Linked DNA regions of Homo sapiens. Changing the gene in region 2 together with the main gene of any one other region gives a genetic interaction. Each region holds a gene or a part of one and is shown on either strand. Other genes may lie near its edges.

Region 1 (3,500 bases), about 36 Mb from region 2:
CTGCTGCCCCTGGAAACTGCCTGTTTGGCTGGATGTCTTGGAATTTATCAGGCCTACATTGTGGATCTTTTCCAATTCTGCACCCTGCTCACTTGAAAACATATTTGAGAACTAGTAATCTTAGACTGCTGAGCCAGACCTCTAGAGAACCAAGAAAGAGAAATAACTCTAATACTGTGCCCTTAATATTGTCCTGGGCCATTTATGGGTGGCTGAGATTTCTGAAAGCCTTTGACAGCCGCTTTCATTATTCTGTGATTCATGTACATTCTCTCTCTCTAGGACCACATTAGGAGGAATCTAACCCTGCTACATTTGTAGGATACCTGAGTATAATAATGATATGAGGAAATCAAATTATTTCTCATGGAGTAATGATTTTAATTTGAAAATTGTCTCCAGCTCTACCTAGCAAAGCAATCCATTTAGGCATGGGTGAACTGTAGCTTTTAATTCATTCCTTTGGTGAACATTTTTTGAGCACCAGACACTAATCTAGGCACTTGGGATATGTTGCCAAACAAAACTGACTGAGATCTTTGCCCATGAAATATGTGTTCTAGTGGGGAAGGCAGACAATCAGCATCATTAATAAATAAGTTATATATTATATTAAAAGATGATACATGCTATAAAAAAAGAAAAGCAGACTAAGGGGAGTTCTGGGGCACAGTTTTAAATTGGGTGGTTTAGATAGCAATGACATTTAAGCAAAGACTAAAAGAGATGAGTCTTGGCTCAGATGGATTTCTTCTACATAGGGTTTCATAAACATGACTTCATGAAGTTATGTTTGTGACTCTCCTTATGTTTCCATATACCTGGCTGTGGCCATCTGGGAATTTCCAGTGGTCTATCTCAAATTAGTCTCAGTGGTGGAGCACCTAGAAGCTGCACTTTGTAGACCATGAGCTATTGATATACTTAATTACATCTTCCCAACCAGGAGCAATTTTATTAGGAGAAAATGTGACTTTTATATGTATGCATTATAAACTAGGTTTTACAAGCATAGGTACAAAGCAACAACAACCCCCCCCCCAAAAAATACCCAAACTATCAAATTAAATATATCTTATTTTTTCAAGTTTTTCTGTTAATATTTACTCACTATTATATTTGTTTTATCATCTTTTAGAACTTGCTAGCCTGGGTAGCAGGCACCATAGATTTGAGAAAAATTGTGGAAAGCAAGCCTAAAGTTGTGAAAACCTGCCCCTTTAACTTAATTTTCCCCCCAGCTGATGGGGAAAACACAGCCATTCTGATTTGATTTTCTCTGTACAATATCCCATTCCTCTTCAGTGGTACATAGGTTAAGAACCACTCTTCTAGAGTAAGTCTGTTAAATCAGATATGAATTAAATAAAAGTCTTGTAGACTCTTTTCAGCTTTCTCCTTAGTTCCTCTGGAATCTCAGGTAAGGGTTTGCAGCCATTTACCTATTTTTTTTTGGCCTATTTTTTTGCCATTCACATGGGAGTCAGAATTTTTATTTCTTTGTTTTTTTCTTTCTTTCTTTCTTTCTTTTTTTTTTTTTTAAGAGACAGAGTCTCACTCTGTCACCCAGGCTGGAATGCAGTGGCACAATCATAGCTCACTGAAGCCTCAAACTCCTAGGCTCAAGCAATCTTCCTGCCTCAGCCTCCTGAGTAGCTCGGACTACAGGCGCGTGCCACCATGCCCAGCTGGGAATCAATGTTCTATCAAAAAGGATCTGAGAGATTTCAAGATATTCTGTCTTAACAAAAGAGTGGAATGAGTAGAGACAAGGAACCAAAGAAATTCAGCCCAAAGTAGATTTAGGAGACGTAGTCATGATTTTCATTTTACCACTAGAACTATAAAATGCTAATATCTAATCATACCCTTTTCCCCTTTAGTCCCTATATATAGTTTGACAAGTGATAGATTATTAATAAACATTGAATTAATGCTTCCACTCATATCTTGTTCTATCAGAGTGAGTTCTATAGAACCTAGTACATGGGGTTTCTGTTTACTAACATTAGCTTCATCTTTTTTCCCTTTAATTCTGTCCACGCTATCCCTCCCACCTCTGCCCTCTTACCACAGACAAAAATTAAAAACAGGTTATAGTTCTCACTGAGAACTTGTGGTTCTTTTCAGCCCCAGAGCACCACTTATTTTCCTTACCAGTAATGAATTCATAGGATCATAACTTCCAGTGAACCTTCTCTTAAACAGCTTTTCATTTAGGTTAATGTCAAGTCTTTGTATTCTGTATCTCTGTTTTACTTCTGCTGTTGTCCTGCTGTTTTATCTCATAGATAGGGAGACATTATTAAATGCCTACAAATGTGCATTGTTTCTGAAAAAGCTTTATGAGATTTGGATCTTTGTGAACTAAAAACAATAACCACCTGGTCTCAATCTGCTGTCCAGAGGGACATATTGTATGTGTGTAAGAGCATGAAATTCGCTTCAGTGGTAAGTGTAACTGAGTTATGTGGATTTAGCATTCCATGATGCCAGCCTCACGTGGTAATGGACCTGGGAAACCTAATTTTGTGGTTTCAGGGCTGTCCAGAAAGGGAGATAATGTCAGGAAGAGAACATCTTTTTTATTTTTATGGAGTATCACCCAGATAATAAGTGATGGAATGGAATTTTACTTCAGGAACACAACTTTATGGTTTAAAAGAAAATGTCTGAAAGTTAGAGGTAAACCATCAGGATGATATTTGATATAGTAGACTAGCCATCAAAGTACCAGCAGGATTGTTTCCATTTTTATCTGGCCTCTTTAGTCAACCACTGCGCTTTTCCTTTGCAGAGTGTTGTTCGCTGCCTGTGGCATCCAAAGCTGAACCAGATCATGGTTGGAACTGGAAATGGATTGGCTAAAGTCTATTACGACCCCAACAAGAGTCAGAGGTATTTCATAAGTATTGCCTGTTTTAGATGGATGACAACAACTGGGGGGAGGGATTTCCCTCCCACCCCCGCTTTTATTTATTTCCCACTTTGATGGAGATCCACCCATTTAGAAAATGCAGCTGGAACAAAGTAAAGCCTCAAACTCCTGGTATTGTGCTTTAAAAAGGATTTGAATATTGCCCTTGATCCACACTGAATTCAAAGCGAAAGTTTCCTGGGAATTTGCAGTTGTTTAGCTGAAATGTTGAGTGCAAGGGGGAAAAACGTTCTGCCCACTTTGCATACCACCCTGGACAGAGGCATTAGCAGTGATACATGTAAGAGATTTAACAAAGCAGGGAACTAACCACTTACAGGAAATGGAATCAGCTTGTCCATTTTGCTTCTTTCTTTTTTGGCTTCTAGCAGTTTGGATGTTTGGCAAGATTATTCTCTGTCCGCAGAAAGGGACAGCACAGATACGTTTCCCCTCCACCCCCATGCCCACCCAAGTTTCAAACTTAAGCATACCACTGTATTTCAAAAGTCTGAAAACGTAACTAGAGGTTCAGTCATTTCCTCAGTTATTTCCGTTTTGCTTAGGCACAAAGATGGATATG
Region 2 (2,363 bases):
AGTAACCCTATGTTTAGGGATTTTCTGGGACCATGAAACTGTCTGGTAACCTGATTATAGTGGCAGACATTATAAATTCTTTTAACTGTATATGCTCAATTTTACTGTATATTTTTTATTAAATAAAAACATAACCCTATTCATTTATTAGTGTTGACACTTAAGGAAAAGACAATGACCCAGGAGCCACTCCTATTCTAAACACTACCTTTTCCAAGTCACCTTATAAAATATCCTACAAAGAAGGGATCTGGAGATTACTTTTACTTTTTAGAAGTTCTAAACCTCAGGTTACATCTACAAAATGGAGCTATTAGTTCTTCACAAATTGAGGAATAAAGGAGATAACACCGAGGTAATTCATAAAAGGCACTTAACATATGCTTACAATAGAGAATATCAGGGAGAAATGTCTGTTTATCCACTAAGGAATACTCTATTCTCATATTTACACCCACCATATAAATCATGGAAGCACTAAGGACTGTTGGAGAGCAAAGTTTTCAAACCTGAGAACTTTATACCACCTTTGTTACACTACACCGTGATTTTAAATCTTTAATCAAATTCCAAAGGTTATCAGCCATATTACATGCCATGATTAGCTTTCTATAAGCAATTTTTTTTACTGTGTACAGATCGGTGTCAATGAAATAAAAAAATAAAACTGTATACTAGGCAAAGAACTTTATTAATCTTTGTTTCAAACTTGATTCCCAGGCTTCTTCGGCTTAATTAGCTGCAAAGAATGAATTGTGTATAAGCAAAAACTGAAAAGAGCTGCAGTGTCCAAGGGGCTTGGGCTTAAAAATATTAGAGATCTAGATTTTATCAGATCCATAAACAAAAATTTCTTAAAAAGCAGTCATAATATAAAATAGCAGCTCCCAGTAACTTCTTCAGGTTTTATCTTCAGAAGTTGACTCAATTCAGTTTGCCTCATTCTTGGAAGCCTCATCAAAATTCTCCACAAGATCTAGGAAAAGGAAAAGAGTAGAAATTCTTAAAAAAGCCAAATCTACAAATAATTATCAGATATTAAAAGGGGATGAAGGAAAGACATTCATTTGCCAATGATGATAAATACTGTGTCATAGCCCCAAGAACAAGAATGCAAAAAAAAAAAAAAGTGAAAAAAATGCCCCCCTCTTCCCATCTCATACATTGGTCAATAGTGGGGGAGCAGAACCAAAGAATACAATGACACACAATGTTAAAATTTTCCTGGATTCCTAAGGATACCTGTCTATGCAAAGTGGGAATATTTATGAGTCCAGTGATTCTCCTGCCCAATAAATATTTTAGAAGAACGTAAATTTATCCAATAACAGGTAAGAGACAAAAATGTCTCATGATTCCCAAAGGAGTTATGCTGCTACAGATTTTAGAATGCATATATATATCCCAAGATACCTGAACAACTCCACACCTTCTTGTAAATTCATGAGTTTCAAAGTAGGGAGCAAGGGTCATTAGTGCTCTGCAGGTAATAGTTATATTTAGGGTACTATATATATATACTTATTTATTCAATATTTAAGGTTAGATACCTACACATCCTTGGGATCCCAAACAGAAACAAGCCAAGTCAAGTCTATAAACATAATTCTCAATTACCTAATACTGCATTATTTTTCTCATTCTAAGTAAGATCTATGTCCATCTTAACTTACCACCCCTCTTCCCTGGGTAGTTTTTCCTACAAAGATTTCTTATTCTCCCTTGCTAAGATTCTCTAGGTTAACCACAAGTAAACGTTCCTACCTGGAACTTCATCATCATCATCCTCTCCAGTAGCAAGTGGTGCTTTTCCATCCACAGCTATGAAAGGAAAATGTAAACATTATTTGTCTAGGTTTTTAATAAATATTCACCAAAAAAAAAAAAAAAAAAAAAAAAAGAACAGATGAAATGCCAAGTGTTGTTACAACTTATTTCCATGATAAGGGACATTTGGGATTTTATCTATGATACTATCAATAACATGATATTCTAATGTCTACAAATGGGTTAAAATACTAGGAACAGCCAACAAACAAAATTCCATACCCATCCTTTCAATCCCTCTGGGCCACCATAGGCCCTGAGGTAGTATAAGGGCAGTAGGGAACTCTTAGAGTGCAGGTAAAACCCACATACCAAATCATGGTGAGATTTTGGGAGACAAATGAAGATGCCATTTTCTCAACTACTCTGTGTGTGGCATAAGGGTGATGCTCAACAACCACTTACTGAAATGAAAAAAGTTAAAGTAAAAAAATTAAAGAGTCTGTGAGTGGTAAGCATCCACTCTCCTTTATCACACAAGAATATGAACGTACACAGGAGAGTTATGTACTAGGCCCATACAGGCATCAGTGGGA
Region 3 (2,494 bases), on a different chromosome or scaffold from region 2:
GGGGGTCCACACCCCTAATCCCTGCATTGTTCAAGGATCAGCTGTAACTACTTTGAAGGGAAAAACAATCATGAATATGTACATTTATACAGGTTCTGATATGTGTTTTATGATGCAGTTAGAGCTAGAAGGTATCAGGATTGTGCATTTAGAGAAAGAGTAGTATGACATTTTAAAATGAATGTTACATTATTTCTTGTAAAATAGAATTTGGTCAAAACGTAGTTTTGATCTAGGACAAATTGATTTAGTAATGGAATTGTTTTTAAAAGACTGCCTTGTGGGTCTTAATAAGGTCTTCAGTATAGTATGTTAGGACATTATGATGATGTTTATTGGGTTTTGCAGTACCATTTTATTTATTGATATGTAACCTTAGTTGTGAGAGAGAAAACTCAGAATCTTATTGATTGTATTTACACAAAGTTGAAAATACTTTCACTCCACTCTATCTCACTTGCTTTTAAATGCAATAATACTTGTTATCATATTCACTATTATCTGCTAAAGGCCATTTCAATTACTTTAACATGGAGTTATGGCTTACCCTGTTATTCAAAATGTAAAATAAAGAATGGCTTAACTGGAATTACTTTGAAGATTGTGGCTATGCATTGCTGAATTTTACCAGTCCACTTTTGTCATATAGTGAAGTAGATGTATGTGTACATAAAGTTTTCTGGTAAAAGTTTTCATCTTAGCTATAAAAAATATTTTTGTCACACAGGGGCTATTTTTGGAGCATTACAAGATATACTTGGGAGCCGTTCTGTTTCAAAGGAATATTATAATCAGACGGGCCGTATACCTGATTGGTGTTCTCTCAATAACCCACCTTTGGAAATGATGTTTGATGTCGGGAAAACTCAACCACCTCTGATGAAGAGAGCATTTTCCACTGAGAAATAGAAGTTTGATTAAAAATCAACCTTGCTTCATATCAAATATTTAACCAATTATAAGCAAATTGTACAAAGTATGTAGGATGTTTTGTTATAGAGGACTATAGTGGAAGTGAAAGCATTCTGTGTTTACTCTTTGCATTAATATATAATTCTTTTGACTTTGTTTCTCTTGTGTAGTGGTAAAATGGTAGCTGGTGCTTATTGAGATTTGCTGTATTTATATCAATAAAGTATAGTAAAGCAGTTTGATTTTGGAAGTTTGTTATGTGGCTTTTTTTTTTTTTTTTTTTTTGAGACGGAGTCTCGCTCTGTCACTTAGGCTGGAGTGCAGTGGCACAATCTCTACTCATTGCAAGCTCCGCCTCCCGGGTTTACGCCATTCTGTCTCAGCCTCCTGAGTAGCTGGGACTATAGGCATACGCCACCCCGCCCGGCTAATTTTTTGTATATTTAGTAGAGACGGGGTTTCACCATGTTAGCCAGGATGGTCTCAATTTCCTGACCTCGTGATCCACCCTCCTCGGCCTCCCAAAGTGTTGGGATTACAGGCGTGAACCACTGTACCAGCCTATGTTGCTTGTCTTTCAAAAAGAACAGTATTTCTCCACAGTTCACATAACCTGTTCTGGGCTCATTAATTGTGTTTCCAGCAGTTACTCCATTTAAAGCATAAATAGTGTTAACCATTACCAGTTATTTCAAATACTAACATGGGTCCATTTAAAAAAAATATTTATTTTGGTACTTGGGTGTCCATATTATAATAATGTTGTTTTTCCAGAAATATATTTGATCTTTGGACTGAGAATGTTTGGTAACATAGTCAAGCATTTGTTAAGCCAAGTGTGGAAATGTTCACTTTTTAACTTTACAGTTTTTTTAATGAGCAATTCTACATTTCTAAGAAAAAAGATACTTCATTTTTATATAAGGTTACAACTGCTTTATAAAAATGTATTCACAATGTCATTAATCTTTGCGTTTGTGCTTTATATCTTCTCAGGGCAGAGGTTCTTGAAATATGTACTCAATCATTTAACTTTTATTTTATTTTTTCATTTGTTTTTAATGAACTACCTCTTGTTGAAATTTTGCTGGCTTCATTCTTTCGGGATACCTGTGTCCTCTAGTCCTACCGCTCTTCCATAGCACTCTTTCCTTAAGCACAGTATCCATAATTGGGGCACTTCTAACTTTTACCTTGTAATCGTTTCAACAGAGGTTTTATCTTCTTTTCTGGAATATAAGCTCTCGTAGAACAAGGCTTGTCTATTTCTTAACTTTGAAACCTCCCAGGAGGATTGCCAGGAATAGGTATACTATTATTTGCCAATTGGATGGATTTACTATTTTATTAACATTATCTCTTTTTTCAGTAAACATGAACTTTACATTTATATTGACCTCATATTTTGGTGAATTTAGATTATTTATGAGAAGTTTTCATCATTGAATAATATCAAAAACAGGATCTGTGACTGAAATAGAGCTTTAAAACTAGCTATAAAGTAGCAGACAACTAGTGGCTGAAGTTAAGGAATGTAGCCCTCTGTTATAGGTTGAATTATGTCCCTCAAAAAGATAGGTTG
Region 4 (3,500 bases), on a different chromosome or scaffold from region 2:
CAATTTTTCTGAACACTTAAATTTAACTAAACAGCTAGTCTATAGTTTGCCTACACATTGACCAGAAGATTTGTAAAAATGTTTTTCTCTCTTTTGCTCAGAATAATAGTCCCATTAGAATTTTTATTACACAATGGAGAGGTTTCTCTCTCTCTCTTTAAAACCGCTATTTCTTGAGTAACATAAGAACCTGAATCCAAATCCTGACAGTACCATTTATTAGCTGTTTTTGCCTTGAGTCAATTACTTCATATTTCAGTGAGGCAGTTTTCCTCCTCTGTAAAACTGGGTAGAAATGTCCACTTCATTCATTCGCTATGCAGATTACATAAGATAACATATGCAAAGTGTTTCACCTACTCCGAAGTACACAGTAAATAATAAATAATAATGATAACTAAAATTAACAAGTTAAGAAATATATGATGCAACCATGTTGCAGGCTCTAAAATGAGAGAGACATTAAATCTGTTATTTGAAAATGAGAGTCAGGACAGATAAAATGATACATATTCAAGCTTACATAGTAAGAGGCAGTTGACTTAAAGTATAATAAAAAAAAAAAAAAATATATATATATATATATATAAAAAGATTCCGGGTTTCCTGACACCCAGGTTGTAACTCTTTTCACCTCTATGAAATTATTTGTCTTTTTAAAGCAATAGAAGTTATTCAACCCTACAGCCACAATATAACTATAACACAAACATGGATTACGTAGTTTTGAGTGGAATAATATGAGTACCAGGACATGTGTAGACACCCAGTACTTGATTCATTTTTTTATCGTTGTAGCAGAATTCCTTGCATATTTACTGAATGGATTCCAAAGATCACTTTGGGGTAAACCTGCAGGATAAATGCCTCAGATAGCAAATGTTGTTGGCTATTACCTTTCCTCTATAGGTTGATACTTTTCTTTATCATAAAGAAATTGTACCATACTTCTTCCCTAGAACTCAAAGTATGCCTACAAAAGCGCTTAAAAGGGTTATGCAAAATGAAGGTACAAACCTGCAAGTAACCCATCTCTATCAAATGTCTTTTAGCAAAATAAAATGAGCCATTTTCATATAATTCTCCATCCCAGTCTTGTCGACGAGGCCGTTTAGCTGGATTTAAATTCAGAGGTTCGGTCACTTCACGAACTAAAAGCAAAAAGTTAGAGTAAGTCCACGTTGCCCTGAATATAGAAAGTGTTAATTTAGTAACTAAAAAAGTTAATAAAAATGAACTCAGAATGCAGAGCATTTCTTTATCTAGATAAAGAACTTTTCTTTTTTTTTTTTTGAGACAGAGTCTCGCTCTGTCACCCAGGCTGGAGTGCAATGGTGCGATCTTGGCTCACTGCAACCTCCGCCTCCTGGGTTCAAGCGATTCTCCTGCCTCAGCCTCCCAAGTAGCTGGGACTACAGGCATGCACCACCACACCTGGCTAATTTTTGTATTTTTAGTGGAGATGGGGTTTCACCATGTTGTCCGGGCTGGTCTCGAACTCCTGACCTCGTGATCCGCCCACCTCGGCCTCCCAAAGTGCTGGAATTACAGGCATGAGGCACTGCACCCGGCCTGATAAAGAACTTTTTTTAGGCTGAATGTGGTGATTCACGCCTGTAATCCCAGCACTGTGGAGGCCAAGGCGGGCGGATCACTTGAGGTCAGGAGTTCGAGAGCAGCCCAGCCAACATAGTGAAACGCCATCTCCACTAAAAACACAAATTTAGCCGGGCATGGTGGTGGGTACCTGTAATCCCAGCTACTTGGGAGGCTGAGGCAGGAGAATCGCTTGAACCCGGGGGGGGGAGATTGCAGTGAGCCGAGATTGCGCCACTGTACTCCATCCAGCCTGGGCAACAGAGTGAGACTCTGTCTCAAAAAAAAAAAAAAGAACTTTTTTAAAGGAATAAAATCTGTAATAATTCTGATGATTTATCTTTGCTTTCCAATAGCTACTAGAAAACTAAAGTATTTTATAATGAAATGTGGAACAATTAAGGTATTCATACAAATATTATGCTTTGGGAGGACATCAAGACAACCTTAAAGTAGCTTTAAAAGAACTGAATTTGTCATAAAATACCTATATTAATATTTGGGCCCTTTAATCTAGTTCTCATTGTTTGCATATACAGAAATAAGTTTTATTTATCTAATGTGGTTGAGAACTTGTTTTTATACAATTATTGCTGAAAAGTAAAGATTTCTCCATTAAATTATTGAAGATTTTATATTGATGAAAATGTTTATGTAACATATTATACATTCTTACCATTAGTTAAAAATATACTAAACATAATAATAAATTATGTTTATGAGTATACCTGATAATAAAGGCTCAGTAATGTCAACATTAATGAATAGAACATAATGTAATCAATGAAGACTTTGGTACTGTCATGTAGAGATTCCTTTGCCTTTCCACTGAGTTTTCCTCAAATCTGTGTGTGTGTGTGTGTGTGTGTGTGTGTGTGTGTATGTGTGTGTGTGTAATAGCTGGTTACTCTCCAGAATCTTTCTTCACTTTTTGCTGCCATTTCTGTGTTTATACAGGCTTCTAGGAATAACCTCTACTTACTTGTTTAACGAAATCATCCCCTGTTCAATTCCACCCCAGTGTTTGAAATAACCCAGGAAAAAACCTTAGCAAATACAAATTAAATAGCTAGAGATAACATAGCTTTATGGGCACTGGCTACAGAGTAGTGACCAGAACTCTCTCTATTCTCAAAAAGTATACAATCTAGGGGTAGAGACAGGTAATAAACCAACTAGATAATTCAAGTGGTACTTTGAAGAAAAGAGAGGGACAAATCTTTCCTAGTATCGGTGGCTGCTTTCTCCCTGGTCATATCTGCTGAGTATGAGGAGAAGGTACAAGAAAGATCAAGCTTTGCATAATCAGAGGGACTCTGCTGAGGTAGGCAAAAACTAGAAGGGCTTTCAATGACCTTGTGGACTTGAGTTACAGATTGTCATCTGTAGGAACCACAAACATATAGCTCGTTTTTCCCCACCTAATGCTTCCCCCTTACAAGACTTTGGCTGAGTGTACTGGGTGGGAAGCTGGGAATGGGCTGGAAAGCAGGGAGACATCATAATAGTATTGTGGTCATCAGATCCCTTAGTCTTGTTAGCAAGAGTAGGGTATGGGTGTGAGTGTCAGTAACACATACAAGATGTATCTCCTAATAAGACACCTATACTAAGAGGTGAGATGAAATTAAAGTTTCAACCCAGCCCAACTCCTAATTGAATCAAAGTGATCAGCCCCTTATCCTATCTTCCTGATAGAAGAAAAGGTGTACCCTCTCTGGAGGAAAATATGTACTCAAGTGTCTATGCCAGATATACAATTAAACATGAGCCAAATGAAGAGGCAGAAATAGGTGACTCACAATCAAGAAAGAAGCAGATTACAGAACTGTAAGTGACTAGATGTTGAAATTTGCAATCAAGGACTTTCAAATAGCTATCAAAAATATGTTAAATTAGAGGAA

The links. Genes that interact genetically often act in the same process or in processes that back each other up.
Region 1: changes in BTF3 (region 2) and WDR70 together harm fitness less than expected from each alone (positive genetic interaction), as found in Homo sapiens cells (one large-scale study listed by BioGRID).
Region 3: changes in BTF3 (region 2) and ACTR10 together harm fitness less than expected from each alone (positive genetic interaction), as found in Homo sapiens cells (one large-scale study listed by BioGRID).
Region 4: changes in BTF3 (region 2) and CMAS together harm fitness more than expected from each alone (negative genetic interaction), as found in Homo sapiens cells (one large-scale study listed by BioGRID).

What each region holds. Positions count from the first base shown.
Region 1 is NC_000005.10:37,718,318-37,721,817, forward strand, and holds part of WDR70 (WD repeat-containing protein 70), read left to right. Parts: intron 1-2,797; coding exon 2,798-2,898; intron 2,899-3,500.
Region 2 is NC_000005.10:73,503,805-73,506,167, reverse strand, and holds the end of BTF3 (transcription factor BTF3), read right to left. Parts: intron 1,822-2,363; coding exon 1,765-1,821; intron 977-1,764; coding exon 930-976; 3' UTR 501-929; downstream 1-500. UniProt on the Homo sapiens protein: When associated with NACA, prevents inappropriate targeting of non-secretory polypeptides to the endoplasmic reticulum (ER).
Region 3 is NC_000014.9:58,233,643-58,236,136, forward strand, and holds the end of ACTR10 (actin-related protein 10), read left to right. Parts: intron 1-727; coding exon 728-909; 3' UTR 910-1,994; downstream 1,995-2,494. UniProt on the Homo sapiens protein: Part of the dynactin complex that activates the molecular motor dynein for ultra-processive transport along microtubules.
Region 4 is NC_000012.12:22,056,218-22,059,717, reverse strand, and holds part of CMAS (N-acylneuraminate cytidylyltransferase), read right to left. Parts: intron 1,152-3,500; coding exon 1,018-1,151; intron 1-1,017. UniProt on the Homo sapiens protein: Catalyzes the activation of N-acetylneuraminic acid (NeuNAc) to cytidine 5'-monophosphate N-acetylneuraminic acid (CMP-NeuNAc), a substrate required for the addition of sialic acid.